2 linked regions of the Homo sapiens genome follow. The protein of the gene in region 1 interacts with the protein of each later gene in a biochemical or structural test. Each region holds a gene or a part of one and is shown on either strand. Other genes may lie near its edges. The genes, in order: XIRP2 and FLNC.

Evidence for each region.
Region 2: the proteins of XIRP2 (region 1) and FLNC form a complex in vitro, tested with the Homo sapiens proteins (one study listed by BioGRID).

What each region holds. Positions count from the first base shown.
Region 1 is NC_000002.12:166,879,568-166,896,214, reverse strand, and holds the start of XIRP2 (xin actin-binding repeat-containing protein 2), read right to left. Parts: upstream 7,736-16,647; 5' UTR 7,658-7,735; intron 1-7,657.
Region 2 is NC_000007.14:128,854,406-128,868,825, reverse strand, and holds the end of FLNC (filamin-C), read right to left. Parts: intron 14,414-14,420; coding exon 14,144-14,413; intron 14,052-14,143; coding exon 13,914-14,051; intron 13,628-13,913; coding exon 13,512-13,627; intron 12,309-13,511; coding exon 12,176-12,308; intron 12,082-12,175; coding exon 11,905-12,081; intron 11,709-11,904; coding exon 11,490-11,708; intron 10,819-11,489; coding exon 10,609-10,818; intron 10,491-10,608; coding exon 10,303-10,490; 3' UTR 9,554-10,302; downstream 1-9,553. Other genes in the region: protein SPMIP1, read right to left, coding at 51-160, 1,996-2,416; ATP6V1F (V-type proton ATPase subunit F), read right to left, coding at 3,248-3,449, 3,623-3,706, 5,764-5,921.

The sequences.
Region 1 (16,647 bases):
CAATTATAAAAACATGGTATAGTAAATACTGGGCAATAGGGATGTTTTTCCTCCGTTATATTCTTAGGGGACCACCACCGTATATGCAGTCTGCCATTAACTGAAATGTTGTTATGTGGCATATAACTGTAGTTCAAAGTTGTCCTTAACTTATTTGTCCAGGGAACCTTTTAGCATAAATTGCTCATAACATCCACAGATGCAGTCTTCCATTAAAGACATTTTGATAAATGTAGAAATAAAGCAAAATCCACTAATTGTAAAAGGCAAGCCTCTGTTTTCTTCTTAGTATATCTATGTAGTAGTCATGACTTTGGCAAGTTTTTAAAAAGTATCTGTTAATCACTATTACATTTAACAAGTAATTTTTTGGTATTTGTATTCTATTAAAAATTAGCTGGCATCTCTTAAAGACCACATAACAAGCTGCAACATTTGTATATAAAATGAGAAGGCTTTCCCAGCATTCAGAGAATTGCATGCTAAGTCAGAATCTGGGTATGAATGAACAGAGGGTAACGCCTGTGTATGTTAAAATACAATTCCAAAACTCATTTAATTTTAAAAAGATTCAGCTGAAATGAATATCCAAAGGGACTACGTAGGTGGCAGGCAGTGACCCTGCTGCAAACGTTGCCAACAGGACATGGCATCCCCTTCTTTCTAATTGAGGAAAGCAAACTTTGATTTACATATAATTTACTTCTGTTCATGGATCCAGAGACCTGTTGTTGGGTATGGTGGGACCCACCTACCACCTTATTTATCCACCTGGGGGAGCAATCCTCAAAAACAACTTTAGATCAGGTGGTTGTCTTTGCTAAGTTAAGCACCAGTATGTGGAGTTATTGAGACTGAGATGTAGCAAGGTAGACTGAGGTAGGATGAAACAAAAAATTGCAAATTGCCATGGAAGCCACAGGATTAACCAATGACCTGAAATGAAGCATCAGGGCATAATACAACCAATGTGGACATTTTAATAAAAATGTTTTGCAGTGTCACATATGGCACGTAAAATGTTTTGCTTCTAATTAAAGTAGTAAACTCTGCATTTTTCCTTGTTAGGAGTTGGCTTGGGCAGTTCAGAGATTTTCAACCATGATTCCCCTCCTTCATCCTCTCTCCAGGATTTAATCACTGTGTCCTTTTAGTCTCTTGCATTTCTTATTTTCTCTCCTGCCACAGGACCTTTGCAAAGGCTGTCCCTCTGCGTAAGTACTCTTCTCTCTCCTGTTCTGCTGGTATCCGTTATTTATCCTTCTGTTCTCAGCATACGGCATGACTGCCTCAGGGAAGCATTCCTGACTTACCAAAGATGATATAGCTCACTATTTTAGCACCCTCAAAATATGTTCTTCTCTGTTCACATTGTCAAAACTACAATTACACATTTGTTTGTGTAGCTATTTTATTAATGTCTGTTCCCTAACTTGAAAATTCTATGTTGGCAAGGTGCATCCCAGTTTTTGTTCAGTAGTTTATCCTTCGCTTCTAACACATTGCCTGGCACAAAATTGGGGCTCAATTAACATTATTAGAATGAAAGGCACAATGCTGAAAAAAGTAGGTTTTCACTATAACCCATCATATGTATAAACATATTTTTTCTTCTCATACTAGAATTAATACTTGGAGCAATAGCTCCCCTGGGATTCACTCCAACTCAGTAGATATTAAGAGCAACTCAATTAGTGCATTTTTAATAGGTACCTGAGGTGATTTTAAGGAAGGTGGCCTGAAATCTATACTTTGAGAAACACTAATAAAGAGAATAATAGCTTACATGGACTCAAGAAAGGAAATCTGCCAAGATTTAGTAAATACATGGAGCTGACATTCACGTTAGGATTCCAAAGAGTTTATTTCACGTTCCTGCCAGGTGATCTGCTATCTTGTATAAAAGAGTATGAGGTCTTCAGAGAGAGGATTTGTAAGTAAGGGAAGGAAAGAAACCCTTGGTCAAAGCTAAGTTGTCCATGTATTAAAGACTGCGTGTTTACAAAAGTGTTCTAATATTTTGTGATCTCTGTCATTGTAAGAATTATCTCCGGCCTCTATTATTGTAACTTTGAGTTTATGTCTAATTATAATGATAATGTTAGGTTTGTGGCCCATTGCATTAAACAAAAAGAATGACCACAATTTTGCCTGTCAAGCATACCAATCCACTCAGAGAAAAATTATCTTTGACTAGGTCTTGGGGAGAAGAAAAACTACCAAATGCTTCCCTGTTCCACTGAAAATCCCTAAAGTTAATTTTAAACAAGCTTTGTAAATAGTCTCATATGGTTGATTTACTAAGATTTCTTGTAAGTCATAACTCTTGTTTCTTGTATTTGAGGACATGTTTTGGTACATTTCTCTACTAACAGCATTTCAAGTTTAAAGCATAGTTATGTATCAATTTGAAACACATGTTCAAATCTAAGAAATCTATGATTATTACAGAATGATAGTGAATGAAGAGTTTTAAGCATGGCAAGACTGGCAATGGCACTGACACTTTTGATCTCTATTTCTAAAAAAGAAAATGTGCCCAGAAATAATAATTTAATAGAAGAATATTCTTTAATATATGCAAATGTGCCTTGCAAAGTTTCAATAGTCATTATAGATAGTAAAAAAGGAAATGCTTCAAAGTGAGGGGGATGTTTTACTAAATGATGGTCTGGCCACACAATGAAATGATGTAGCCATGTGAAATGGTAAATATAAAGACAATGCAGAACCAATGAAATCAGTATATGATATAAAATTGGGTAAAGAGATACGCAGAAAGGAATGTATTGCATGACTTCAAAATATATGCATATGTTCAAGAACTGAAAGTATTTTTTAAAAATGCAAATAATTTTTTTGGTGTATTGGGATTGAGGCAGTTGGCTTTTCTACATTTTTGAAGAGAAAATAAATGCCATCTTTATCAGCATTGGTTTAAACTGTTTTCTTCCTTCCACAGAAGGAAAAAGCCTTTTAAAACAATTATGGATTTTTCTGGAATATTTTTAAATTTCCCACCAGTTACTCTAATATTTATATCATCAAATTCCAATATTCTCACTTTTCACTACCAGAGAATGACCACTGAAGGTAATTTAAACCCAAGAGTCAGTTTACTGCAGTCATCTCTGTTTTAAATTACAGCACACGCAAACCCTCTCTAGAATCAGCATGCGATCCCTCTCTTTTCCCTCTGGTGGTGTTGTGTGTGTGTGTGTGTGTGTGTGTGTATATACATATATATATATGTATATACACACACATAAATATACACATATACACATATATACATATATACACATAAATATACATATATACACATATATACATATATACACACATACATATATATATAAAACATATATTATAACATATCATAGAAGTTATATATATATATATATATCTTCTATGAAATGATCTCTGAGGCTGACTGCAAGTGATGTCATTTTTCATTGCTCCAAAATTGTAGCATTCTATGTCAAGTAACCCATCAAAGGTTATTTCAGAAAAGAACACAAACTTCAGCTCTGGGAACCTGAGAAGCCTCAACATATTTGCTGTGGGGACCTGGATGGAAGGCCTTTTACTGAAATTCACAGGAAGCCTCTCCTCAGATGCAGGCAGGTGAAGCTCTGCAGGAGGGTGTTTAACCTTGTTTTACTCTATGCAATAATTTTTAAAGTTGGCTTTGAAATTCTGAAAACACAGCAGGCTGCAAAGGGTCTGGATTGCATGCCAGAGCTGTTTCACAGAATAATTTCAGTCACAAAGCAATTGACTTTTTTCATGAAAGATCAACACATGTCTCTTTTCATTCCCATTGTTTCTGTGATTTCTACCTGCTCTGTTTCCCAACACCCACCATACTCCGGCCCAGTGTGCTTTGGAGATCACAGCATTTTCTGAGGCCCTTTAAACATGACTTTAAATATTTTTTTCAGGTATAATTCAACAAGTACAATACCAACTAGAATTCTAAAATATTTTTGTTAATCAGAATGAAGCCTGTGCCAATTTGAGAATAAAAAACATCAGAATGGAATAAAAAGGTATTGTTGGATAGAAATTTTTCTAGTGGGTTTCTCATCTTTGGAAACTACAACATGTGTCTGAAGGGGGAAAATATTTTGCAATATAATTCTAGCATCCTTCAAAATAGTAGTTAATGATCCCAATAAGATGACAGAACAGACGAAGATTGTGAGGCATATCAGCATCGGCAAGCTGAAGGTTCAAACTACAAAACAAAAGGTTTCCAAGAACCTGCCAAATTTATGTTGTCACTAAGCCAGATTCTCTGCCAAGGAAATCCTCAGTCTTGCAACTGTAGAAAGCAAGTTAAGGTTAGGTAAATATGTCAAACTAGCACCTTCTGACAAGGGTAAGAATCCCAAGGATTATGTTTATAATGCTAATATTAGTGTAATTTAACTTATTTTCATGCTTTGGTTACATTTTCTGTTACCAAGCTTTCAGAATTTTTGTTGTGATTAAGAAAGATTATCAGACAACAATTTTTTTTTCAGAGAAAAAAAATCAAAAGACAACAACTGAAAGTGTTTTTCCAAATAAAGCAAGTAATTGATCTTTTCTGGGAGGGAAATTTTAATTAGTTTTGGCAGATAGTTGCTCAATATCTATCTGATAAGAATGTGAAAGAAATTAGTTAAGAGATTCAAAGAAATGGCATTTTCAATATTAAGGAAAAAACTTAACTAAAGCTTTATTATTATATATTGTCAATTACATTAACTTCTCCAGCTATGCTAGGTTTATCAGAACAATTAATTTTTCTGCCAAAAATGTAGCTAACATAGTACATTACTTAATTTCCCACTAATAGGATGCATGCATAATTCATATATGTAAAAAAGAGATAGGAACAATGCATTTGTTTATTTTTCTTTCTTTTATCTCCACATTCACATTTATTAAGTGAACCAGCTAAGGCACCTTGCTAAGACAAGTTATTAGAAGAATTTATGAAGTTGTATATTTGCAATAAGCTTATCTTACCGCCATGTCTTTTTCTGTCAAATTTCTGTCCTGTGACTCAGCTACCACAGTCACGTATCCATTAAAGGAAAACACAAATTTAACAGTTCTTTAACTTACTGATCTCATCTAACTAATGAACATCAAGCATGATGGACATACGTCGCCAGATAGCAGCTACAAGACACCAAATCTCTCATAGCCAGCTCTGGGAGCTGCATTATTTAGTAAGTCATGGAAGAGAGAAGTGCACCCTCAACCATAACCCCTGTTTGTGCTAGGTACTCAGCTTACAAGTTTACTCGTTAAAGGCTGATTGAAGCAGCTTTTGTTTCCAAATTCTATAGAAAAATAAACTCATCCTTAGTAAAAGGACCCATCTCAGAGTCCCAGAAAACTGTCTGGAGGATATGGGTAATTAGTATTTAACAAAAGAAGAAATTTGTTAAATATTTCATGGATTATCCCAAGCAGGCTGCGTACCAGACAATACCTGTTATTTAGGACAAAGCTGATGATCTGTCATATCAGCTTCTGCTACACCCACATACAGAATACATCTGTAATAAAAGAAGCATGCAAAATTTGCTCTCATGAAATTTCAAATATGAATCTCAGTGTGAATAATAAAAATAAAAACAAACTTTTAGAGTTTACTATTGAGAGCTGTCAAAGAATTATAAAACATAAATCCAGACTTCAGGGATTTACAGTCTGTTCAGATGCTCTGGTTCTCACCTTTTCTGTGCACCAACATCATCTGAGATGTCCTTAGCACTGCAGATTCTTAAGGGCCCACTCGGGGAGTTTCAGCTAGTTTCAAGGTCTGGAATTTGAACTGGGAACTGGCCTTCTTAGAAAGCACCAAGAGGTGATTCTGATGCCCGAAGCCTATGAACCCACAGTTAAAAAATAAAACTTAGGGGCCAGGCACGGTGGCTCATGCCTGTAATCCCAGCAGTTTGGGAGGCTGAGGTGGGAGGATCATGAGGTCAGAAGATTGAGACCATCCTGGCTAACACGGTGAAACCCCATCTCTACTAAAAAACAAAAAAATAGCCAGCATGGTGGCACGTGCCTGTAATACCAGCTACTCAGGAGGCTGAGGCAGGAGAATCGCTTGAACCTGGGAGGTGGACGTTGCAGTGAGCCGAGATCACACCACTATGCTCCAGTCTGGGTGACAGAGCAAGACTCTGTCTCAAATAAAATAAAATAAAATAAAACTAAAAAGTAAATAAAACTTAGCTACATCAACAGAAATATTAATGAACTGGAGAAGACACAACACCATTCATTAATTCAATACCTGCTTGAGGATTGCTTGCTATGGAGAAGAATAACAAGGAGAAGAAGGTGGAGATGGGGCTTACCCCAAAAAGGGGAAGAAATCTAGACTTATGAGAGAATGAAAATGAAGAAAATGACTACCAGCAAAAGCACAAAGGCATGGAAGGACTCATCAACATCAAGAACCCCAAGCAGGTAGGATAGACAACCAGAAAGGTCAAACAAGTGGATCTGGACAGGCTAAAGGAGCTTTTAAGGAGAAAATGCACTAGCAGGAGAGACAGAGCAAGCCAAGGTGGGCCTTGCCTGGCTGGTGATCATCTGGAAACAGTGGGAGAAGGCTGCAAGGAAGAAGGAAGTGGAGAGGAAAGCAAAATATGGTGCCACATTGTTGGGAAAATGAACATGGTTGCTCCCCTTGAATAAATAAACGCCACCTGCAGGAGGAGAGGCCAGGGACCTGGGCCAGAACCTCTGCTGTGTCTCACCTACCCTGTGCCCTGGCTCCACTGCAGCAGCCCTTCAAGGCCAGAAGCCCCATGGCCTGGGACATCCTCTTCATCTTGGCACAGAAATTGTTTAGGGAGGTGTCTGGGGGCGAGTGGGGAGAGAGTGGAGGAGGGACAGCTGTCATCTCTGAGATAGAAAGGTGCAGGAAAGCATTTCATATGTAACAATTTGAATGTTTTTTGCTGTTTTTAGAATTCAGAACCCTTGTTGGAGTGCCTAAGAAGTGGGGTAAGAAGAGCTTCCATTTGTCTGCTAGATCACATGTTAGTGGGTGGTTGTGCCAGGAGGCAGCTGCTGAGGGGTTTGCAACAACCACCCTGGTCTGTGTGCCTGAATGCTTATTCAGAATGGGGCTGTCAGCTGCAGGCTCATGCCCTTGGGTCCCTGAGGGTCATGGCTTTGTCCCTGGCGAGTCCTCTCTGACCTGACTCAATGGAACGAAGGAAGAAAGGAGAATTGCCCAGATGCTTTCTTTGGGTGATGCTGTTTTTGTTAAATTTCTTCCCCAGAAGTCCCTGACTATCTTTCAGTGTCCAAAAATATAATATATAGCCAAACTTACGTGTTTTGAGTCTGAGAGATTAACTATTTTTTCTCTGGGCACATTGCTGCCCCAGATTAAATTGTTTCTTAGTTAGAAAAACAAATGAATAACTAGAGATTCTAGCAGCAGTGTCTGTCACTAAGCGCTAGCCTGAATTTGTTGATGATGCTGTGATTCTATGCTAATTTAATGTATATTACTTAAAAGAAATAGGGAGAGAGAGGCAAAATAGTGTCCTGTCAGAAACTATCAAAGAGAAGCATGTATGTGTAGAAAAAATTATGAAAGAAGTGGTTTTTCTTAGGAAAATCTTACCTTTTTTCTACATGTCCCAGTCCCTACCAGATGTTCCCTTTTGTCTGCCTAGAGACCTGCCAGATTTCTCCAAATAATCCTGACTTCCTGGATACACCCACATAGAAACAGGTCGGGTTCTAGAAGAATTTGTCTGCTCCATGTTCCATCAGAATCAGATTATCTCATTATTTTGGAACAAGTTAATCTGCTGCAGATGAATTAATGAATGCTGCTGAGTTAGCTATTATCATTTTTTTCCTACATATTCTTAAAGGTATGTTTTAACCCAAAGACCCATAGTGACCAATGGCTCACTCTATGGCTGAGCTACACTTTAATTATCACTGTGCGTCAGGTTCCATACATATAAAAATAAACCTAATATTTAATTCAAAGTCATTTGTGAGGGGTTGGGACACCTGAGAATTTTGGATAATGATCATGAACATAGAGTCCAGATTCAAACCAAATGGCTTCAAATTCCTACTCAAACACTAGTATATGACATTAGATGCATTATTTAATATATCCAAACATTAGTTTCCTCACTTGAAAATTGGGATGATAATAGTATGTTCTAACTATACTGTTGTGAGATGAACAAAATAAATGAAATCACGCTCATAAAGAACTTAGGATAGTGCTTGGTATGAAGCAAGTGATCAGCGGATGTCAGCTTTTATTAGCAGTATTTAAGTATAGTTATTTGCAACCAAAAAGTGCTTAGCGATATCAGTTATCATCTTCTACAAATTATAGGAGACCACAGCTTCTGAGATAATTTTATTTTATTTTACATATAGTAAGCTATATACTATTTCAAATAAGTAAAGTCTTTCTCTTCGCAGACTCTAATTGCAGAGTCTAATTTGATTCTTATTTGGTCATCTAATAGCTCTTTGTTCCAAACTGGGGTTTTTATATATAAGGGGTTCAGTGATATACTACTAAAGACAATGTTGATTTTTTTGCATAAAGGAATTCAATAGCAGAAATGCATTTTAATATAATAAATTAAATCTTACAACTTTAATCAATGAATTTTCATATATAAAAATGACCATAAATTATATAAATAACTGCAGTGCTTAGCCAGTATTCAAACTGTAGGTTTCAGAAATCTTGTTTGAAAGCTTAAAATATAGGGCAGTTATGATATGGTATTTGGAGACGATACAGGGTGTGATATAAAGGTTCGACTACAAGGCTAATGTTATAAACTGGTCACATTTTGAACTGCAAATTCTGGTGACTTAATTATTTTTCCAAGAGTTTGCCAAAGTCAATAAAGAACAATTAGCTCAACATCTATGAACTTAAAAAGGACTTAGACATTCTGCTATATTAAAAAGACTAAATGCAGTACTTATCTTGGTGTGTTTCTTGTTTCTACTCTGGGAAGATTAAAAAACAGATAACTTTAGAAATTACAGACCTGTCAGCATCAGTATTTAGTTGAAAACTTACTGAAACATATCATCAAAAAATCAATTTTCAAGCACCTAGAAAATCATGAGTTACTGGGTAAAATCTCCTTGGCACTGTGAAAAATAAATCCTGTCAAATCAACTTAATTTCCTTCCACGACAGAGTGACAAAAACAGTAGACACAGAGAACTGGATAGACAAAATATATCCTGACCAAAGTCAGGCAAATTCCACATAACACAGAGAGAAAATACAGTTTGGGTGACATTTTGTCTTTATTAAGTACTCCTATTGAATAACTATGCTGAACATATCTGGAAGTGATACTCAGCTGGAATATTGAACATGTAAGGTGACTGGTTAGATATAAAGATGAGAGCATTCAAGACCAAGTTGTGGCAGGGCTGATTCTCACTATTTTAAACAAAATATTATCGGTAATTATGAGAAACCAAGTAAGAATCAGCATCATTTTGCTACTTCTGTTTTTTTAAAAAAGCAAGATCCCCAACAGAAAAGGATGTGTAGAACTGTAATGCCCACATAATGTTGCGATGGGACTACTGTTGGCACATTTGGGGTTTGGAGGCCCAGGAGAGTGAAGATGAATGGCATGAAATGAGGCATGCCTTTGAGTCAATGCTTCTGACCAGTGAGGGATCCATTTTTACTTCTGAGTCCAAATGTTTTTCCCACAAGAAAAGGTTAATGTATCCCTCTCATCTCCAAAGACTCATTTAACAAAATGACTCGTTTAACAAAATGAAAACAGCATGGACAAATAAGAGAGTGACATTTTTAAGAAACATTGGTATAGTTCCTAAGCAGAAAACCAGAAATCTGTGTGTGCATTAAAATAATAAACCACTTAGTAAAAATAATAATTGATTTTAAAGTGAATTTTGAGGAATCCCTTTAGCAGATATTCAAAGTATTTGGAAATAATGATAAATAACCTGATTTCAGTACATTATCATCCCATCCTAGAAGCTTGTAACAGTGGGAGACAGATGAAGATAGTGAGATTTCAAAGAAAGGGTAGTAGACACTATATCAACAATAAAGTATTTCCTTAGACAAGAGCTTGAAAATAATTTTCATCTCATGTGCCAACTCTAATTTTTAGTTGCCACCTGAGTAGGCTTGAGAAGTTGCACTAGGCCCACTCTAAAGAATAAAGAAGTGCACCAACCATTCAATTTGATGGGGGTGAGATATTTTGCCCATTCCCATGAAGACACAGACAGCAAGTTTATACTGGAGCCTAACTATAGTATTTATATTTGACTACATAATAAATCCATAGCAAGTAGTTGTTCTTGAATATTTGTTTATTCATTCTCAGCTAGGCTTTGGTATCTTTATTAGGACTTAAATTAAAAACTTTCTCCAGGTGTTGTTATACATATCTGATCTGGGTAAACCTACCTGGTTGCTGAAGTTCAGATTCTAATGCACTGAATGTCAACCAGGACCTTTTAGGGAATTGCGTCTTAACAACACTTATTTCTGTTGGGCTGTGCTAAATCATCTAGTCTCAACAATTATTAGATGCTTAGACTTCTCCTACAATACACATGTGGATGGGCCCTCCAGACTGGGTTGGCACATTATTGTAAGAGACTCACTTGTATTTATTAATTCATCAACTTGACACACATGAGATCCAAAATCAACTGGGAAAAAAGTCACTAGTTATTGAATTAAATCCCATGCAGTCTTTTATTCCCCAGGACCTTATATTTTGGTGTGACATTCCAGTGAATTAATTTCTGACTATAATTCATTGTTGAAAGGCTTGGCAGAGGAGTTGTGGAAGTCCAAAGCAAGGGTTTTGAATAAGCTCTCATTTGAAAAATTATATTTCTTGCATTAAACCCAAAATATCTCTGTAATTTTCCCTTTGAGCCTGTTCTAAGCCTTGAGGCCATATAAAACAAGTCTAATCCTTCTTCCACATGAACAAACAATCTTTAAATATTTGAATAAAATTCTAATGGGTCTCTTAAATTTTCTTTTTCTATTCAAGCAAACCATCCACAAATGTACCCTAATATAAATGCTTTTAATTCTTCTAGTCATCATAGTTCTAACCTGTTCACCATCAACAACCAGAATTAGTCATGTATTCTCTCAGCACTTTATAAATTGCTTATTTCTATTCCTTTAATAGACTGAGAAATGTTAAAAGACAGTTAATATTTTGATTCATTTGTGATCTCCTGCATATTTTACATGGGGCCAAAATCAATTGACTTTAACTGAACATAAGGGAAAAGGTTTTAAAAAAATTTGGAAAATAAACATTTGATACCAGATTGTTTGGGAGTATACAGCAATTGCAGTGGCAAGTACAGATTCTTAGGAAAATAAGATATATTGAAGTCCTATTGAAGTCTTTATTGCTAATGCCATGTTTTTACTAGGATTGCTTTCTAACTAACTGTTAAGTAGATTGCAATAGCCCAGAGTGATATTCTGAATATTTAACAACTAGTATCAGATGGACATAATCCTAGTATTAAAGCAGCATCCTGGAAGCATTGACTATATCTTGGGAAAGTTTCGGAGTCACAAGGAGGACATTTACAAAGAATTTCAAAATTATTTTTGATATTTTAAAAATCAGTAAGGCAATCACGGTGACTAATGGCTGAGTAACAGCCTTTGAAACAGAATTTTAGCATTAGTGATTTTAATGGAAGCCCTGAATCAAAATCTCACATTGTCCAGGTCATAAAGGGAAAATGACCCGTTCAAGTTCACAGGATTAGTGACAGAGATAGTATTCAAAATGGCTAAGAATGCCTTAATATTTTCTGCAGCTTGACTATACTTTACAGACTTCTTACTATTGACCCCTGACTCCCTTAGAATATCTACTTTAGAAAACTTTCGATTGCAAATTTTTTGACTCTCTGAATCTTCTCCCAGCTTCTTGCCAATTTTATAACCCAGAAAAGTTTTCTCAAGGACCTACCCTGATGCAGTCATTACACACTGCAGGCTTGTGTCAAAACATCACATGTATCCCATAAATAACATACAACTATTATGTAGTCATATTAAAATATTTTTTAAAAAAATCAAGAAAGATAGCATTCCCATCTCCCAGTCTCTATGGGAAGGTAAGAGCCCAACTTCAGTAAGTGTCAATTAGTAAACACAGATGGCCTAGTCACACTGACCACCTCCCCACTAATGTCCTCCAGTACTTTTCCACCAGTTCACCCCACTATAAAACTCTACCAACTTTTGTTTCAGCAGAGATGCTTTCAATCTCTCTTCCCTAAAGTGATGTCTTAAATAAATCCTTTCTTGCCTGTTCAACTTGTCGAGTGCAATTTTTCTCTGATAGAACCCCCTACATCTTCAAACTCTTGAGCTTTTTTTTTTTTTTTTTTTTTTTTTACAGAGTCTCATTCTGTCACTCAGGCTAGAGTGCAGTGGCGTGACCTCAGCTCACTAAAACCTCTGCCTTCCAGGTTCAAGCGATTCTTATGCCTCAGCCTCCGCTGTAGCTGGGTTTACAGGTGCCTGCCACCAGGCCCAGCTAATTTTTGTATTTTCAGTAGAGATGGGGCTTCACCATGTTGGCTAGGCTGGTCTCAAACTCCTGATCTCAAGTGATCCACCCACCTCGGTCTCCCAAAGTGCTGGGATTACAGGCGTGAGCCACCACACCCGGCGGAAAATCTTGAACTTTTTCTATGATACCATATTTCTTCCTGTTGGTAACTGGAGCTACTCCATAAAGGACAGGGGAAAGAAAGAAAGTCATCACTTTCTTTGCCCATTAAAATATAAATCATATGTCCCCAAAATCCATTTATAAATTGTAGAGTTTCTATCTCAAACTTCAGTGTGCCTAAGAATTTCTCAGGATGTTTTTGAAAATGTAGATTTCCAAGTTCCATTATCAGAGATTCTGATTCAGTAACTGTTGTGGACCAAATTGTGTGCCCTAGAATCCATAGGTTGAAGCCCTACCCCTCAATATGACTGTTCTTGGAAAGAGTGCCTTTAAGGAGATAACTGAGAATAAATGAGGTCATCAAAATCGGGCCCTAATTCAACAGGACTGGTTTCTTTGTAAGAACGGGAAGAGACACCGGAAGTGCATGCACACAGAGGAAAGGCCATGTGAGGACACAGCAAGAAGGCAACCACTGAAAGCCAGGAAGAGAGACCTTATTAAAAACTGATCCAAGCTGACACTTTGATCTCAGACTTAAGCCTTCAGAATTGTGAGAAAATAAATTTCTGTGATTTAAGACACCCAGTTTGTGGTATTTTCTTACGGCAGCCTAGGCAGTCTAAGACAAATTCTCACAACAATTTTTTCAAGGAAACATGTTATCTTCCCATTTTTCAAATGAGAACACTGAGTTTCAGAGAAAAATTACTGACTTCCAATTAGAACACAAATTAACAGATGACAGACAAGAATAGAACACAACTCTATTGGTCCTGATTGCAAAGCCATGAAGACAGTTTGGTGAGGAACTCTTAAATTATATAGTATTAATTTTAGAGAGACCCATGAATGTGAAAGGTCAAAAACATATATTTTAAATGGCTTATTTGTAGGGTCATGTTTTTATTTGAATCTTTTAATGAATAACATAAATTAAAATTTTTTCTTAAAAATAGCTTTGCCTAAATACAATAAATCTATTTAGTATATTTTCTAGGTATTCCAGCATCCTTATAGTTTTGAGCAATTCTTAGTTTTTTAAACTTTATTGATATTTTCTTGTCTTTTAAACCAGACATCAAAGAGAGAAATATTTTTAAAAATCTCTTTTCATTCTCATGTGTATTGAAAAAGTTGTTATAAGGCTTAAAAAATACATACAGTTGAATCCAACTGATGCTGTAGGTTGAGCAAAGCAAGGATTCTATTTTCTTCTAATTTTAGAAGTTAAAAGATTTTTGGAAACTCTCCGGCTATGCTTAACTACTCTTTTTATTTTTGTAGGTTCATTAGAGATTTTAATTTTTTTCCTAAACAATATACTTAATTAGAAAGTCATTATCTGATAAATATCCTTATTGTGTTGTACAAAGTTTTGGGGTTTGGGCATTTAAAATCAAATTATAAATGGCTCCATATCTTAGTAGGGGGAAGAATATTGAGAGTATACATGACACTTTGATGTTTGTTTATTAAAAATTCTAGAGGATAGTCAAGTACATGTCTAAGATTCTGACAAGAACATTTTTTGGAGCTGGGATATCTTCAGTTTCACTTCAGAATGTAACCACAGTATTTATAAAAAGAATGTAACCACAGTATTTATAAAATGTAACCACAGTATTTTATAAATTTATAAATAAGTGCATTAACATATAGTTCCAATGTAAATTTTATAAATTCTATAAAATACTGTGGCTACATTCAGAAGTGATACAGAAGATAGTTACCAAAACTCACAATTATTGCACCTAACACAGTTGGCATATGTGTAAATACAGGCCTCAAGAAAAAAATGAAAGTTGTATATGAAGAGCAAAAAAACTCCCTCCCCAAGTTGCAACCAAGGAGGGTGTTCTTGGCATCTTAGGCATATCTAAAATAGAGTGACATCTTATTTTACTAATGATCTTCCCTCTTTTTATGTCTCATTCTCTTAAAAAAAAGATAAGCTTATTGAAAGAGCAATGTAGCTGATTGTCCATAATTATTTGCTTGCATTTTCTCTTTACCCTTCCATAACTTGAATTCCAGCCTTGCTATGTCACTGAATTGCCTCTCACAAATTCAAGCTAACCTCTGTTTTATAGTATTCTATAAACAATTTGTAATTCTTGTCTTATCGAAGCTCATAGTCCTTACATTTTTGTGCTGCTCTTAGAACCACATGAACTGTTTTGTGATGCAGCCTAATTGCTTTTATTTTAAAAATAATTTTGAAGAATGATTTGTAAATTTTCAGGCATTTGAATCACTCATACTAATTTCTAAGTAATGCAAAGTGTCTATGCTTAAAATAAATGCATTAACATATAGTCCTGATGTAAAAAGCAGAATGTTCTCTACTGATTCACCTGTGAATTCTTTGCATTGAAAGGGTTAACATCTATTTGGCATAGTTTCAGGAATAGATCAGTATTCCCCAACAGTTTTTGATAATTTTTTATTAATATAATACTGTATATTCTCACTGTGAAAAACCTGCTGTTGGTTGGTTGTGGAGGAAGGTACAGTGACTTGCCAAAAATATTTTATAGAATAACTATTAGGCATTCTTCCAGTCTATGTATGTATTGGATTAATCCCGTCAATAAATACATTCTTAATGTGAGAAAATGAAATTTTAAAAATATGGTAAGAGGGATTAAGCTCCTTCTACCCACAAATCTCTCAAATTCACCCAAAATTCTCTCTCACCTTCTCTATGTACCTCATATTTACTTATAAAATTCCTACACTTTGTAATTGTTCCAGCATATAGAGCAAACTTCAGTAGGAATTTATATGACTCAATCCTATTTTCTGGGGAACATATTCTCTGCCTAGAGGCTCTCCTTGTCTGTGGTAAGTTTATTATAAACCTTGAACTTTCCAAGATTCTGGCTTCAAAGGACATACGGTTGTGCCTTTTCAAGGTAAAATTGTAGAGCTGAGGGGCAGTATGCTTATCTGAAACTGATCTTAAACTAAACGTATCAATGAAAGAATGATAAAAGAAAACAGATAATCTAAATTATAATGTGTTCTATTTTCCAAAAAAAAATAACATTTTTGAAGATTTTTCCTCCTTTGTTAATAGCCATTTAAGTTACCCAATTCCAACTTACTTTATGTCATAACTTGCCAATTCATTAAGCTTCCCTAAATTTATGGCCATCTGTTGTTCTATTTTTGCTCAAGCAGAACACAAAAAATGCATTCAACTTCACGGTGATTTGTTTTGCACCTTACTCGACTGGCAGTTTCACAATTAAAATAACACTTGTATTTTAGTAAATGGAATGATAGTCAATGGAGCTTCACTCTGTCTTCTGTTGACTCCAGATCTGAACTCAACCTTAGTAGAGTTGCCTGACTTGACCAATTATGGAGTCTTGATTGAGGAAGTTGGAAACGCCACTTTTTTATCCCATTAAGTAGAAAGGAAAAGAGAAAAATGGAAAACAAAGAAAAAGAAAAAGGGACAATAGAAAGAAGAAATGAAGAAACTGGGTTTTTTCCCGTGGTCTGCCTGAATTCTAAAATTAAAATCAACAGGTGACTTGTTCCAAACAAAATGCAAAGATACTGGGAGAAGCAACACAGTATTAACAGTAATCTCTGACTAAAAGTTTGCATACAGGGATCTAAGCAAAATGCATAAGCTTTGGGCTCCCAAGGCATAAATGATAAGGTTAAGATTACCAAAGACCAACATTTTAGCTCACAATTTTGACTGAGTCAGGCTAAAATTTATTAGCAACGCAGTTAATTTAAAGACCCTGCCTGAAGAAGGAAATACTTCATACCAGCAGATGTGGAGTTCTTAAAACTAGGAAGTCTGAAAGCATTTGTGACCTAAATGGAGGGAATCATAAAAATAAAACATATATGATTTCTTACC
Region 2 (14,420 bases), on another chromosome or scaffold:
GAGGCCTGTTATTTCTTCTTCCCTCCCCTAAGCCCACACCTGGCCCACGGTCAGAGGGCCAGGTCTCGGGGATCAAGCAGTGCGAAGGCCCCGTTCTTGCGGAAGAATGACTCAATGCGGCACATCTTGCAGGAGACCAGTTCTTGCTTCACTGGGGGGCCTGGGAAAAGATGTCAGAGGCCAAGCATGGGTTCCTGAGGGAGGGACACGCAGAGCATGGGAGCCCTGTCTGTCTGCACAGCCCTAGGAATCCGTCAGTGGAGTAGCCACTTTGTGGGAAGAAATAGAAAGTGCTTTGGAGGAATGGGAGCTATGGGCAAATACTGGGAGCTGGCTGGATGCCAGGATACAGCAGCCATCTGCCATCATTACCCTAGCTTCAGGATCCTCTACCTGCAGGGAGGGGGGCCACCCTAGCCTGCTTGTCACAGGGACAGACTGTGGAGAGATGAGATTTCCTTCGGCCTCCTGCTCCCCGCTTCTAGGGCTCGCCTCCTGCTTTTGTTAGAAAGTTATTTCCCTGACTTCCCCTTTAGGGGCCTGGGGGAAAGGGATGTTTGGGGGCAAAATCTCAACTGAGTCAATCCCCAACCATCCACCTTTTCTGCAAGACACTCAAGCAGCTGGAGAAGGGTACAGGGCTGAGGAGTCTCACTTGACATTCATGAGCACAGACAGCAATGGGACGTGCAGCAACATCGCCCAGCAGCCCTGCCTGGCACATGCCTGTTCCACACCTTTCCTCTTCATCTCTAGTTACTCCACTGCCTCAGCTCAGCTCCCTCCCCGCTGATGGCCTTGACTCAACCTCACAGAAAAAAGACTCAGCCGAGATGGACAGGCTTCCTGCCAATGACATCCCCTACCCGCTCTGGCTCAGCCCTCCTGCCCCCACTCCCATCAGATTCCAGCAACTTGAGCTCCCTAGGAGATCTCATGGATTTAAATAGCACCTATAGGCCAGCCGGTGGCTCATGCCTGTAATCCCAGAACTTTGGGAGGCCGAGACAGGCAGATTACGAGGTCAGCAGTTCGAGACCAGCCTGGCCAATATGGTGAAACCCTGTCTCTACTAAAAAAACAAAAATTAGCTGGGCGTGGTGACACACGCCTGCAGTCCCAGCTACTCGGGAGGCTGAGGCAGAAGAATCTCTTGAACCTGGGAGGCAGAGGTTGCAGTGAGCCAAGATCGTGCCACTGCATTCCAGCCTGGGTGACAGAGTCAGACTGTTTCAAAAAGAAAAAGAAAAAAAAAAAGCACCTATATTCCAATGACCTCCGAATTTGCATCTTCAGCTCTGACTTCAATCCAGACTTATAGACACAGCCACCCTACAGACACTTCAAGCATAACATAGCCAAACACACATGGCTAAATAGGACCTGTTCATGCACGCTCCAGCCCTGACCTCTCCCAGTCTTCCCTGTCACTGCAGCTTTAGCTAAACAAACACCTGGGTGATTGATCTCTCTTCCCCTTATTCTCACATTCTATCCATGGGTGAGTTCCACCGAGTCTTCCCCCAAAACATCCTGAATTGATTTCAGCTCTATTGCTGATCCCTCAGGCCACTACCACAGGATAACCAAACAGATGCCCAACTCATGTGCCAGATTCTACCATTTCCCCTGAAAAAGCCACTGCCTACATACAGGTCAGGGTGACTTTTTAAAAGGTTCACCAGTGTCACTCTTGAAATCTGCTTAGAACCCTCCATCAGCTTCCCTGCACAACAAATAAAATCCAAACCCATCCTTATCATCTGGCTCTCAGCCTCGGGTCCTCAGAAAGGCCTTTCCTGACAATCCAATAAATAGCAGCACGTGGCCGCTGCCTCCCTGCCCACCGCCACTCCCTAGTTCTGTGGAACGTGTCGACACTTCTTGGCCATCTCCTTGCTCTGTTTATAGTCTGGACCCTTCACCAGGATGCCCACTCCCTAGCACATGGCTAGTGCTCTGTTTTTGAGGTGATTTCCAAGAGGTTGGGCTCACCCAGCTGCCAGCCATACGTGAAGCTGGTGGTGATGGGGAAGAGGTATCGCGTCTCTGGCATGTCCAGTTTTCGAGTGTTGAGGTAGCGGTACCGCCCCTGGAAGTCGTGGGAGATGCCTTCATACAGCAGGGCTCGGGTGATAGGTGGTACCGGGTACATTTCCGACTGAAAAGGCGCCTCTGGGACAGGGCTGGGCACCTTGGAAGGGGCTGACTTGGGGGCGGGTGGGGGTGAGAGTGGGGCTTTGGGGTGCAGGGTGGGCAGTTTGAGGGGCAGGCGGGCTGCAGCCTTAGCCTTCTGCTTGGCCTTCACCATCGACCCATACTTGCGGTACCATTCACAGCGCAACATCTTTTCCCTCAGATATTCCTCCTTCCAGAAGTTCTGCCGTAACGCGTCTATGTTGAGCTGCCGTGACATGGTGGCCAGGGAAGGAGTGGCACCAGGGTGGCCACAGCTGAGGGGTGAGCACAGCAAGCAGAGTGCTTCTGACGGCGAGTGGCTGCCCAGGCACAGTCACCTGGCAACCATGCCTCACCTCACACAGGGCCAGGGTTCTACTTGCCATGCCCCCAGCAGACCCCATGAGCCTGGCTTCCTGAGGCAGCCTGAGGCCAGGGCCCACTGGTTAAGAGCCCTGCTCCCCCCAAAACTCCCGCAGGGCCCTCGCGGGATCTGGCATCACAGACTCCCAGGTTTCGTGTGCTTTCTGCTTCTGTCCTTTGGATCTGGCCCCCTTCCCAGCCCAATGCCGAGCAAGGTGGGGGAAGCAGGAGCTGGGCTCAAGCCTCCTCCCATTCCTCCCCAGACCAGAGCTGGTCTTCTCTGATCCAAGGACCAGTCCTTGAGTTCTGCCTCCCGGCACAATCCTCCTGGGCCACCTCTTCTATGCCTGTCTTTGGCAGCACCTTTTCCATCCTTGCCAACCGAATCTGCCCCATGGCCTCACCCCACACATGTCCTTTCCAGCACCCAACCCATCTGGAGAGAAGCAAGAATATGACTTTAATTTAACATCAACAATGACACTGTGTAACAGCACAGGGAAGAGGTAGTGGAGGGAGATGGTCAGGCTTCCTGTTCCTTAACCAGCAGAGCCCCAGCAACCTAGAAGCGCCTCACCTAGCCTCTTAATGGAGTGGGAAGGAGCAGGGAATTGGAAATCAGAGGCTCAAAAAGTAAAGAAGGCTGATGGCAAGCCTGGGGAGAGGCCTGGAAACGAGGGAAGGGCTGAGGGCTATGAGGAGTCCCCTAGCGCAGGTCTTCGGCAGTGAACATGCCCCTGGCCCTGCGCAGGATGGAGTCCTTGGCGGCGTCATATGGGTGCTCCTTGGAGGGGATCTCCAGGACAGCGGGGATGGACTGCTGGTGGGCGTCCAGGGCATGCCGCACCATCTCTGCGATGTACTGGTTGATGAGGATGATGCCAATGTCATCCCGGTTTAGAAATTGCCTGTGGGGAGAGATGAGAAGGGAGTCCAGGACAGCTCTGGGGGCTGCCGTCTCTCCTACCCAGGCAGCCCTCTCCGAGTTGTTGGGCTGGGCTGTGGAGGGGAATGAGCATGACCCAGAGGGCACAGAGGACAAGGGGAAAGGCTGCCACGCTCAACCCTCTGTCAACCCTACCTAGAATCAATTTCATCCCAAAGCGGAGGGTCACGCTGATTAGGGTTGGCTTCTACAACACTGCCCGGAAGGCTTCCAAGTGAACTGGTAATGAAGATTGATTAGGGTGCACACTGGTGTATTCAATATGCAGTGATGTGTCAGAAAGGGGAAGGATAAGATTATATGTATGCAGATCCCTTTTTATGTGCAGATACTGAAGGCCAGCTGTGATGGCTCACGCCTGTAATCCCAGCACTTTGGGAGGCCGAGGCAGGTGGATTGCTTGAACCCAGGAGTTTGAGACCAGAATGGGCCACATAGTGAGACCCCCATCTCCCTCTCTCTCTCTCTCTCTCTCTATCTATATATACACACACAAAAAAATGGCTGGATGTGGCGGATCTATCTATCTATCTATATATATACACACAAAAAAAAAATGGCTGGATGTGGCGGCATGTGCCAGCTACTTGGGAAGCTGTAGTCCTAGCTATTTAGGAAGCTGAGGTGGGAGAATCACTTGAGCCTGGGAAGTCGAGGCCGCAGTGAGCTGCGATCACGCCACTGCAATCCAGCCTGGGTGACAGGAGTGAGACCCTGTCTCAGAAAAAAAAAAAAAAAAAGACACATTAACTTTTAAAAAGAAAACAAATTATTTAAAAATAGGGCTGATGAGACCACTGAAGGCCTCAAGGTCTATCCTGATGAGGGTGGTGGAGGGGTCAGAGGGAAAGTTTGGCATGAACTAAGATCACAAGCTAGGAAGAGGACACCTTGATGAAGGAATCACACTTTCTGCACAAAAAGAACCTGGCCTTGTGCTCCTTCTCTCCTGTGGTCACCCACCCATTCATTTGTTTATTTTATTTTTATTTTTTTGAGACAGGGTCTCCCTCTGTCACCCAGGCTGGAGTGCAGTGGTGGATCTCGGCTCACTGCAGTCTCCACCTCCCAGGTTCAAACAATTCTCCTTCCTCAGCCTCCTGATTTCTTGGGATTACAGGCACCCGCCACCACGCCTGGCTAATTTTTGTATTTTTAGTAGAAATGGGGTTTCACCATATTGGTCAGGCTAGTCTCAAACTCCCGAGCTCAGGTGATCCACCCGCCTCGGCCTCCAAAACTGTTGGGATTACAGGCGTGAGCCACTGCACCCAGACTCATTCGTTTATTTACTGATTAAAAATTACTTACTGAGCACCCACCCCCTGCCAGTCACTGGGTTAGATTTGATCTCTGAGGTCCCTTTTGGTTGGAAACATAAAAAATTCTTGAAGTAAAATTTGTCCTTCTCCCATGATAACTTGGGTCACTTTACCAGACAGCTTAGAGAATGGCAGATAACAGCCTCCCAGGTCAGGGACTACCTAATACACCAGGCAGCAGGAACCAGTCTCAGCCAGCAGCCCTGGGCTGGACTGTTTGGGGGAAACAGGTGAGTGGTTTATTCCTGAGACTTGGTACAGGGGCCCTGGAGAAGGGGTGAGGAATAAAATAGGAGGCTGGTATCCTTAATTCCAGTCACCAGGACCCCTGGTGGATTAAAAGCATGCCTGCACCCACACTCTGACCTAAGGCAGGCAGTGAGGGCTTGAGTGCAAGGTCTTAGCAGAAGGCTCTCACAGTCCCGACATTTCTGCCTACTGTGCTCAAGACTACAAGGAAATTCCGAGGCCGCCTGAGGAGACCTGCCAAGAGTGTGTACCTGGCTTACCGGAGGCAGAAAGGGTTGAGATTGGGTTCAAATTCTAGCTCTGCCTCTGCCGACTCGTAACTTTAGTGTGTGCCTTACCCTCTCCGAGCTTTAGTTTTCTCACCTGTGAGTAGGACAAAAATCATCCCTGCCTTACGGGACGATGGTGAGCCTCTAAAGGAGGAGAAAGCAGAACAAAGTCCAAGCCCACTGTCTAGGCTGTCACGAGCTCTGTTCCCCTTCTTTCATGACACACGATCATGTGAGGTGGGGGGGCTCGTGGACCTGATACAGCTTCTGTCCCACCGAGCCCCAAACGGGGACTTGGGGCGCGGAGGCCTCCGCTCCGGAAGGGCGGAAGGACTTTCAGGATCGTCCCCTCACCCCCGTCCGGGCAGCCTCCAGCCTCGCCCCGCACTCCACCGAGCAGCAGAAGGGCCCGTTCAGGCCTCGCGCGGTACCGTACCGGAAAGTGTCTTCGATCTCATTGATGGTTGTATCCTTCTCCACCACCAGGAAATTGGGATGGCGGTTCTTGTTAAGCTCCCCTATGCCGCCCAGCAGGAAACCAGTCACCGTGTCCTCGTCTCCGATCACTGCGATGAGCTTACCCCTCCCCGCCATCCCTGCAGCCGGGCAGAGCTCACCCTAGAGCACCAGAAGCCACTGAAACCCCGCCTCCGCCGTACGGCGCCCCGTCGGCCTCAACCCCCACCCTTCGAGCATGCGCAGTCCTCCCAGCCGCATTCCGGGACATGCGCATTAACAGCAACACGGCCTCCATGTGAATACGCCTGCGCCGTAAAGACAGGCCCGAACCAGGGGACTACGATTCCCAGAAGACCGCGCGGCACCACGTCCTTCGCGGGCATTCATTCGTTCATTCACTCGTTCCTTGGTTCATTCGTTCAACAAGCGCTTTGGACCTGACGCTGTTAGACGCCGAGACCCCAGAGAAGAGACGCAGTTACTCATCTCAAGGGCAGGGTCTGGGTCTTTATCGTGTATGTATGTGTGTAACTATGACACATAGTTAACAAGTAACACACGTTTGTTCAGTTAAAGGAATGCAAAAGTTAATGATGATACTGCCTAGTGAGGTGGAAAGTCAAGGGAACAGGCGACTACAAAGCTGTGTGTTAATGGTTAGAATGTGAAAAGTATATGGAAGCACACATCCATGGTAACTAACCCATGGAGAGAGGGGGCGTCCAAAGAACCCTTCCCCAAGAAGCTTGCTTCAGATCTAAGCTGAGACCTGAAGGACCTGCAGGATGAAGGGGATAGAAGTGAGGACAAGACGGTGTTCTAGGCAGAGGAACAGCATGTGCAAAGGCGTACTGACTAGAGAGCGTAGGGCCTTCAAGGAAAGTTAAATAATTGGTAAGGCCAGGCATGGTGGCTCACGCCACACCTGTAATCCCAGCACTTTGGGAGGCTGAGGCAGGTGGATCACCTGAGGTCAGGAGTTTGAGACCAGCCTGGCCAACATGGCGAAAACCCGTCTCTACTAAAAACACAAAAAATTAGCCGGGCGTGGTTGTGGGCGCCTGTAGTCCCAGCTACTCGAGAGGCTGAGGCAGGAGAATTGCTTCAACCCGGGAAGCGGAGGTTGCAGTGAGCCGAGATTGTGCCATTGCACTCCAGCCTGGGTGACAGAGCGAGACTCTGTCTCAAAAAAAAAAAAAAAAAAAAAAAAAAAAAATTAGCCAGGCGTGGTGGTGCACACTTATAGTTCCAGGTACTCGAGAAGCTGAGGCAGCAGGGCTTACTCAGGAGTTCAAGGTTACAGTGAGCTATGATCACGGCACTGCACTTAAACCTGAGCAGCAGAGCGAGACCCTGTCTAAAAAAAAAAAAAAAGGATCTGCAGGCTGGGCGCGGTGGCTCACGCCTGTAATCCCAGCACTTTGGGAGGCTGAGGCGGGTAGATCACCTGAAGTCAGGAGTTTGAGACCAGTCTGGCCAACATGGTGAAATCCCATCTCCACTAAAAATACAAAAAAAATTAGCCCAGTGAGGTGGTGTGTGCCTGTAGTCCCAGCTACTCGGGAGGCTGAGGCAGGACAATTGCTTGAACCCGGGCAAGGGAGGTTGCAGTGAGCTGAGATGGCGCCACTGCACTCCAGCCTAGGTGACAGAGTGAGACTCTGTCTAAAAAAAAAAAAAAAAAAAAAAAAAGATCTGGAAGTTATCCTGAGGACAGTTATCCTGAAGCTGCTGAGGGATTTCAAGTAAGAGAGTGCTATCGCCAAACTTACGTTTTAGAGCTGTCACTCACTGTTGACTGTGCTGTGTGCAGAGGCGAAACTGAGGGAGGAGAAACCAAATTGGGAGGCCACTGTGAGAGATAATGGTGGCCAGGACTCAGGTGGTGATAATGGGAAACGCAGAGAAGTAGGTAGAGCCGAGAGATATTTAGATATTTAGGACAAAACTGGTTTCAGAGTGGATGTGTTTGGGGAGTGAGGTAGAGAGAGAGACCTGGGTGATTTCCAGGTTTCTGGCCTGTGCAGCACATGGATGGGAGTAACATTGCCAAGAAAGTGACCTCTGTAAGATGAGCAGGCTGAAGGGGAAGGAGCCACTCTTTCCTCCTCCCTTTTAACAAATCAGCACTCCCGGTGTCTGGCATGGGGTTTGTGAGTTTGGAGTGCTTGAGACGTGCCCGTGGTCTGGTCTAGCGATTGTATGTGTGATAAGCTTGGGATTCGGGCACACCTGGGTTTCAATCTGTGCCCCACTACTTAAAGGTACGGTTTCAGACTCATCACTGAAATTCCCAGGGCCTTGGTTTCTTCAGATGGTAGTAGCCCCACCTCATAGGGCTGTTATGAGGATTAATGAGGAAGGGCCTGTAAGGCTCAGCACCCAGGGCCACACTGTGGCTGGCTGGAAGCAGGCAGGCTGGAGGTCTGTGAGCTTATCAGCCACACACAGGTGGAGGCAGCCGAAGCTGAGGGGGAAATTAGCACATCTAGGGGTGAGGGTGAGGGTGAGGGGGGCAGAGAGTGAGGATGGGTGTGTGGGAGGGTGTGAGGGAAGAGGGAGGAAGCACAGAGCCTGGTGAGAGAGGTGGGGAGGTCAGGGATTAGGAGTTGGGGACTCGTGGGTTTTTCTGCCAAGCCCACCACCATGTGCTGAAATGCCCAGGTGGGTCTAGATTGTGGGATCAGTTGAATGAAAGACTTCTTTTCCCTGCTGCAGCTACTCAGCTGCTCATTTATTCATTCATACCCATTCACTCACTCATTCACACCCAGGGCCAGGGAGCTCCATCTGGTGGGGAGCCGTGGATACATGGCCACAGCTCAGGGTCGTAACTGCAACTAGAGATGTGTCCCAGGGCAGTTTGGGAGCTGGGGGCACTGATCCAGGAGGGGTAGGGAGGGGTCCAGGAAAACTTCCTGTTGGCCAGGAAGATGAAGAGGGTGGGGAGGCAAAGGTGTTTCCGGGCAAGGGCCCAAATTACAGCATGGGTGCCCAGAGGTAATGAAGGGGGGTTGGAGGTGGAGGGCACAATGGAGAGTGGGCCTGCTGCCCAACTCATATGGCTGGGGAGGCTGCTGTCTGAACCTGGGTGGCCCTGGAGACCTTGTCAGGAAGAGGAGACTTTACTCTGGAGCAGGAGGGAGTCACAGATGGCCCTAAACCAGAGAGGGGCATATACTATCTTTAAAGTGACCCCCCCGCCAAGCTGCAGCATGGAGGGGAGGTTGGAGGGAGCTGGCCAGGGCAGGGCTGTTGCAGGAGTTCAGGAGGGAGGCCCTGTGCAAGCTTAGTGCTGGAAAGGGGCATGAAACAGGCCAAGTTGATTCAGGAACTGACTAGGGGGAAGGTGCTGAGTCTGCAGGTGGTTCTGCCTGCCTGCTGGTTGAGGAATATTCCTGTTTGAGTCAGTGCTCACTGTTTTAAAGTCTTAATTTGAAAAACATCCTTGAGGTCAAGCTGAACTGAAACTGGCCTCCCAGGGGTCCTGGGACAGTACTGTAGAACACAGTATCCACACCCTGTACTGTCCACGAACCCTCCCGCTGGGACCCCTTCCCACATCCCCGAGCCCCCACCCCCGGTTCTTTCAAGCACTCTGCCAACATCCCAGACCTCACTTCTGCCCCAGGACCTTTCCCTCGACTGGGTCAATCTTCCAGGGAACAGCCAGGCCGCCTCTGCCTCCCCAGGGCCCGGTTTTTCGTGTGGCAGGCCAGAGGGCAGCCAGCCACACAGAGCACACCCCCAAGGAACAGCCAACCCTCTGCGACAGCCGCACTTTATTTGGAGTTTTCCACCTAAGCAGCTCCCAGCTGAGCTGCATGACATGTGCAAAAGTCCCCTAGAAAGCTGGGCCTCGCAGTGTGTAAAAAAGGCCCCCCATGGGGCAGAGCCGTGCAACCATTTTAAAAAAAGAGACAGTGAGAGAGAAATCAGGCCCCCTGGGAGCCTGGCTTGGGTGGAGTGCACATCGCTCAGGCCGGTCCATGTGCCAGGCCACTCCTGCTGGTTCGGGGGCTGTTTTCTTCTCTGATTGTGCTTTCCTTTCCAAGTCCTTAAAACTCTGGGGTTGTAGCCACCAGAGAGACCAGACCAAGTCCTCGGGGTCAGGAGGGTATCTGGCCGGCGGTGCAGTTTGAGGGTGACCTCACACACAGACACCCACAACACAATGCTCCCCCACTGCTCAGCCCCGCCAGAAACTCAGGGCTTCCCTGGCCTCGCAGCCCTCGCCAGCCCCTTGTGTCCCAGCCTCTGCCCCTGAGCCTGGCCCCAGTCGGCCCTCATGTCACATTCCCAGGGAGGGACACTGTCCTGACACAGACAAGGTCCTCCAACCCCTGGGGCGCGGTGGGGTGGGGAGGCTGGGCCTTCACTTCACCCCCAAGGCAGGTGTTTGTAGTGTCTGATTCTGTGCGTGTCTGGGTGTGGCACATTTGTGTGTGTGTGTGTGTGTGTGTAATGTGTGTGTGGCTGGAGGTGGGGGCTGAGGCTGGGGAGGCACTTTTGGGATTCAAGGGACCTTGACTTTGAAGGGGCTTCCAGGGACACTTTCGTCACCCCACTTGACAATGAGGATGTAGTCCCCTTTCTCCTTGACAGTGTAGGTGACATTGTACACCCGGTTCCCCATGTGCTTCACGTACACCTCCTCACAGGGGGTCTTGGGGCCGTGCACGCCCACCATCATCATGTTGGTGCCTGGAGAGGGAGGCAGAGGGACAGGCTCACACCAGGGAGTCCCCTACTGTGACCCACACCCTGCTCCCTGACGGCTTCTTGCTCACACCCCGGGAGACGCCCTCCCCCCGCCACCTGCCTGCTTTGCTGCAGTCCACGGTGAAGGAGTTCTTCTGGCCCACGAAGGCCTGGGACAGCCCAGGGCCCCGAGTCACCACCTTGCTGGCATCTGAGGAGAACTTGGGGATGGAGCTGTAGCTGGAGCCCCGGCTTGAGGAGGACTTGGTCACAGTCTCCACCAGAACCGTGGATGTTTCGTGAAGGCTGTGGCCTCCGGACAGCCTCGGACCTGAGGGGTGGGTGGAGGGGGCACAAACCTAGTCAGAAGGGCTTCCTGTTCTTCCCCAGGCAGGGGACCCTCGGCCAGCACTGCCACCCTGTGGGACTCACTGCCTGCATTTGAGGCTCCCCCTCAAATTCCTCCAAGGGCCACTCTAGGAGCACAGCCTCATTCCCAGCCAGGGCCCTGAGCTGCCAGCTCCAACTGGTGCTCCACCCTAGGGCTGGGGCCTCAGATGCTGCGTCCCTCATCCTTGCAGGCTTTGTCTGGGAACTCAGGCTAACTCACAGGGTAAGAGCCACTTTACAAAGGAACACCCACCCAACTCATCCTACAGACAGCCTCAAGAGGGGAAGCTTGCTCAATACCGACTGTGTCTTCTTGGAGCGGAGGAATATGGGAAGCCAGGAGGGAAGAAAGTGGTGCTAGAGCCTGAGGAGCCAGCGCAGGCCAGAGCTGAAGGAGTGAGGGGCCACGATGGAGAGGAAGAATGGCATTTTTACGTGATCATGCCCGACTCCACAGAACGTGTACTGTGTAGAGCCAGGCCCACCTCTAGCCCTGGTAAACTGACCATGATGTCTGGGGGCAGACTATGGCCTAGATGTGCGTGGCCACCGGAGCCCTCCAGGCTGGGCTGGGCTGCAGGCTGGGTGGACCTCCCCCAAACTGGCACTCACCAGTGACCTTGGCCTTGAAGGGGCTGCCCACGATGTGCTGGGGGCCACCGTACTTGATGGCAATGAGGTAGTTGCCAGGGGCCATGGGAGTATAAGTGACCACATGGCCCTCAGGACACTCCCGACAGTCCAGCTGCACCTTGGAGGGGCCATCAATGGTGACAGACAAGGCCCCCGAGCCGGCATTCAGGGTGTTCACGATGAACTCTGATGACACACCTGGGGGCCAGAGGTAGCAAGGCTGAGGGCAGGAAGGGCTTGTGGCCCAAGAGGGACTGGGCCCCAGCTCCCTGGACAGCCTCTGTGGGGACTCCTGGCTTAGGAAGCAGGGCCCCTACCTCTGGAGCAAAGCAGCACCAGACTAGTGGCCAAGCACCCCCAGAAGTCACCCTGTTCCCCAGCTCCAGGCACTCACCGGTAGTGCCTCCCTCGAGCCCAGGACCGTAGGCTGACACCAAGCCTGGGTCCCCAGCCTGGCTCTGCTCCCCAACGCGGATCTTGAAGGGACTTCCAGGGATGTGGGCACCGTTGAACTTGACATCGATGGAGTGGACGCCATTCTCGTGGGGGATGAAGCGGATGGTGTGCTTGTCTGTGGATAAAGGGTTGGTGGCTTAGCCTCCATCCTTCCCCTCCCCAGAAGGCCCCAGCCCGGAAGGGAGTTGGCAGGGGCAGGGCCAGCTCACCACTGTCCAGCTCAGAGACGTAGCACTCCTCCACAGCCCCCGAGGGTGTGTGCACCCGGGCATCAATCACGCCCCGGGCACCGTTCAGCTGCACGGCAAAGGACGCTGGCTGGTTCACCTTGAGCCCCGTCTCCTGCAAAGGCCACGGAGGATGCTCAGACTCCTGGGAGGCCGGGGCTGGAGCAGTCTTCTCTGAAGCCCCACACGGTGCTCACTGTAAGCCCAGCCCAAAGGCTGCTGCCACCCCATGCCCAGCCTGGCCCCTGCCTGCCAGCCCAGCCTGGGAGCAGGAGGAGCCAGGGTCCGGTATGCAACCCTATGTGTGCACCTGCTATCCTAGCTGTGCTTGGTGTGTGGGAGATGACAGACGATGTGCCCTGTCCTGGCTGAGGAAGGAAGGGCCCCACTCTGTGTGAAGCAGGCTGAGGGCGGAGGGCAAGTGCCTGATGGGCTGTGTGGGCTGGGGGTGCCAGAGAGCTCTGAGGTAGGAAGCTGAGTTTCACTGGCCTGGCCTGGGAGAGCTTCCTGGAGAAGGTGGACCAACAGGGAGGACCAGAAGAAGCACAGAAGGGCTCTGGGGGAGGGATTGGAGCCTGCATCGGGGAGCCCAGTTCAGGAGTGGGAGGAGGAGATGCACAAGGACTCTGGATGGGCCAATGTGACCACCCTGAGGGGCAGCCAGGAGGCGCGTGGGAGAAGGAGGTGGGGTGAAGCCCATTCTGTGCGCCTTATGCAGAAGCTCCTTTACAATGTGTCCCCTGGACACCTGGCCCCCTGGTTTGCATGTTTCAGTGTGACTTGCTGAAAGCCTTCCTTGCACATGTCCGCTGTGACAGAATGAAAGGAACACACCACATCTCTAGAAGTCAGCAGCAAGAGAAAGCAAGCCAGGCCCCCAGCGGCCTGAAGAGGATGCAGCCCAGGCTCTGCAGCCCATAGGCATTCCCTTTAGAGGAGCCTCTCACACCCTCTGTGCAAACTGGTTTACTCTTAGTTTGTATAGATTTTATGCTCTCATTCTTATAAATGTTGTCATCTAGCATTCTTACAACAGAAGGTGGAACAAACTGTAACAAGAAATGGCAGGTGGCAGTAGGACAGGCAGACACACCCTGAGAAAGGCAGAACGAGGCGTGGCATGCCTGAGTGCACGGGCAAGCCCCCAGGGTGGGAGCCCACCGTCCCCAAGGGCCCTGCCTCGTGCCTTATGAGAAGGGACTCCTAACTGGCCCTTCCAAGGTCACTGCTAAATCCCTGGCCCCATGGACCTGCTGTCCTCAACTCCTGCCCATCTCTCAGATAGCAGAAACCCTCCACCCCCACCCTGGGCACAAACCTGGAGGCTGGTGACAGTGAGACGGCGAGCGTCATCCGAGAGGGAGGCCACAGGCACCACAAAGGGGCTGTCTGGGATGTGCTCATCATTGAACTTGATGGAGACCTCATAGTCACCTGGGGAGAGAGACCAGTCAGCACAGGTTCCGGGATGGAGGTTGGCAGGGCGGGAGCCTCCCCACCCTGGCCTTATCCCAGGAAAGGCTCTGTGGTCAGCGCTCAGATCTGGAGGCAGACACATGTTTCTGAGGGTGTGGGGTAGAGGGAGACGGGGCAGAGGAAGAGCAGGGGGCTCCGGGGAGGGGAGTTCTGTGGCCCCAAGCATCTCCTGCCTGGCCAGTGGGCAGAAACCCAGTCTGGAAGGTCAGGCAGGCCCAGCCCCACTGCCAGTGTGGACGCCCACCTGGTTCCTGGACGACATAGGAGACGCCGCAGGAGCCATCTTTGCGATCCTCAAATGCAATCTCCGCTTTGCTAGGACCCTCCACAGCAATGGACAGGCCCCCAGCGCCAGCCTCCCGGGTCCAGATGCTGAACTCGGCTGGGGACAGGCAAGGTAGTGGACTTCAGCATCATCGCCCCTCACACTGGCTGCCCTGACTTCATCCCCACTCCTGGCCACCTGCCCCTTACCTGGCACGCCGGCCACACCTCGCTCCAGCCCTGTGCCTCCGGCCCGCACCTTGTGGGCACCACCTTCACCCAGCGGCCCCACAGTGAACTGAAAGGGGCTGCCGGGCACGTGCTGGCCACGGTACTTGACAGCGACCGTATGGGGCCCCATTTCCTGGGGCACAAAGCGCACGCTGTAGGCGCTGTCCTCGCCCTCGACGATCTCTGCGGCTTCCACCTTGCCCGATGGGCTGGTCACCTGTGCAGTCATGTCCTGAGAGCTGGCCTCACCTGCAGG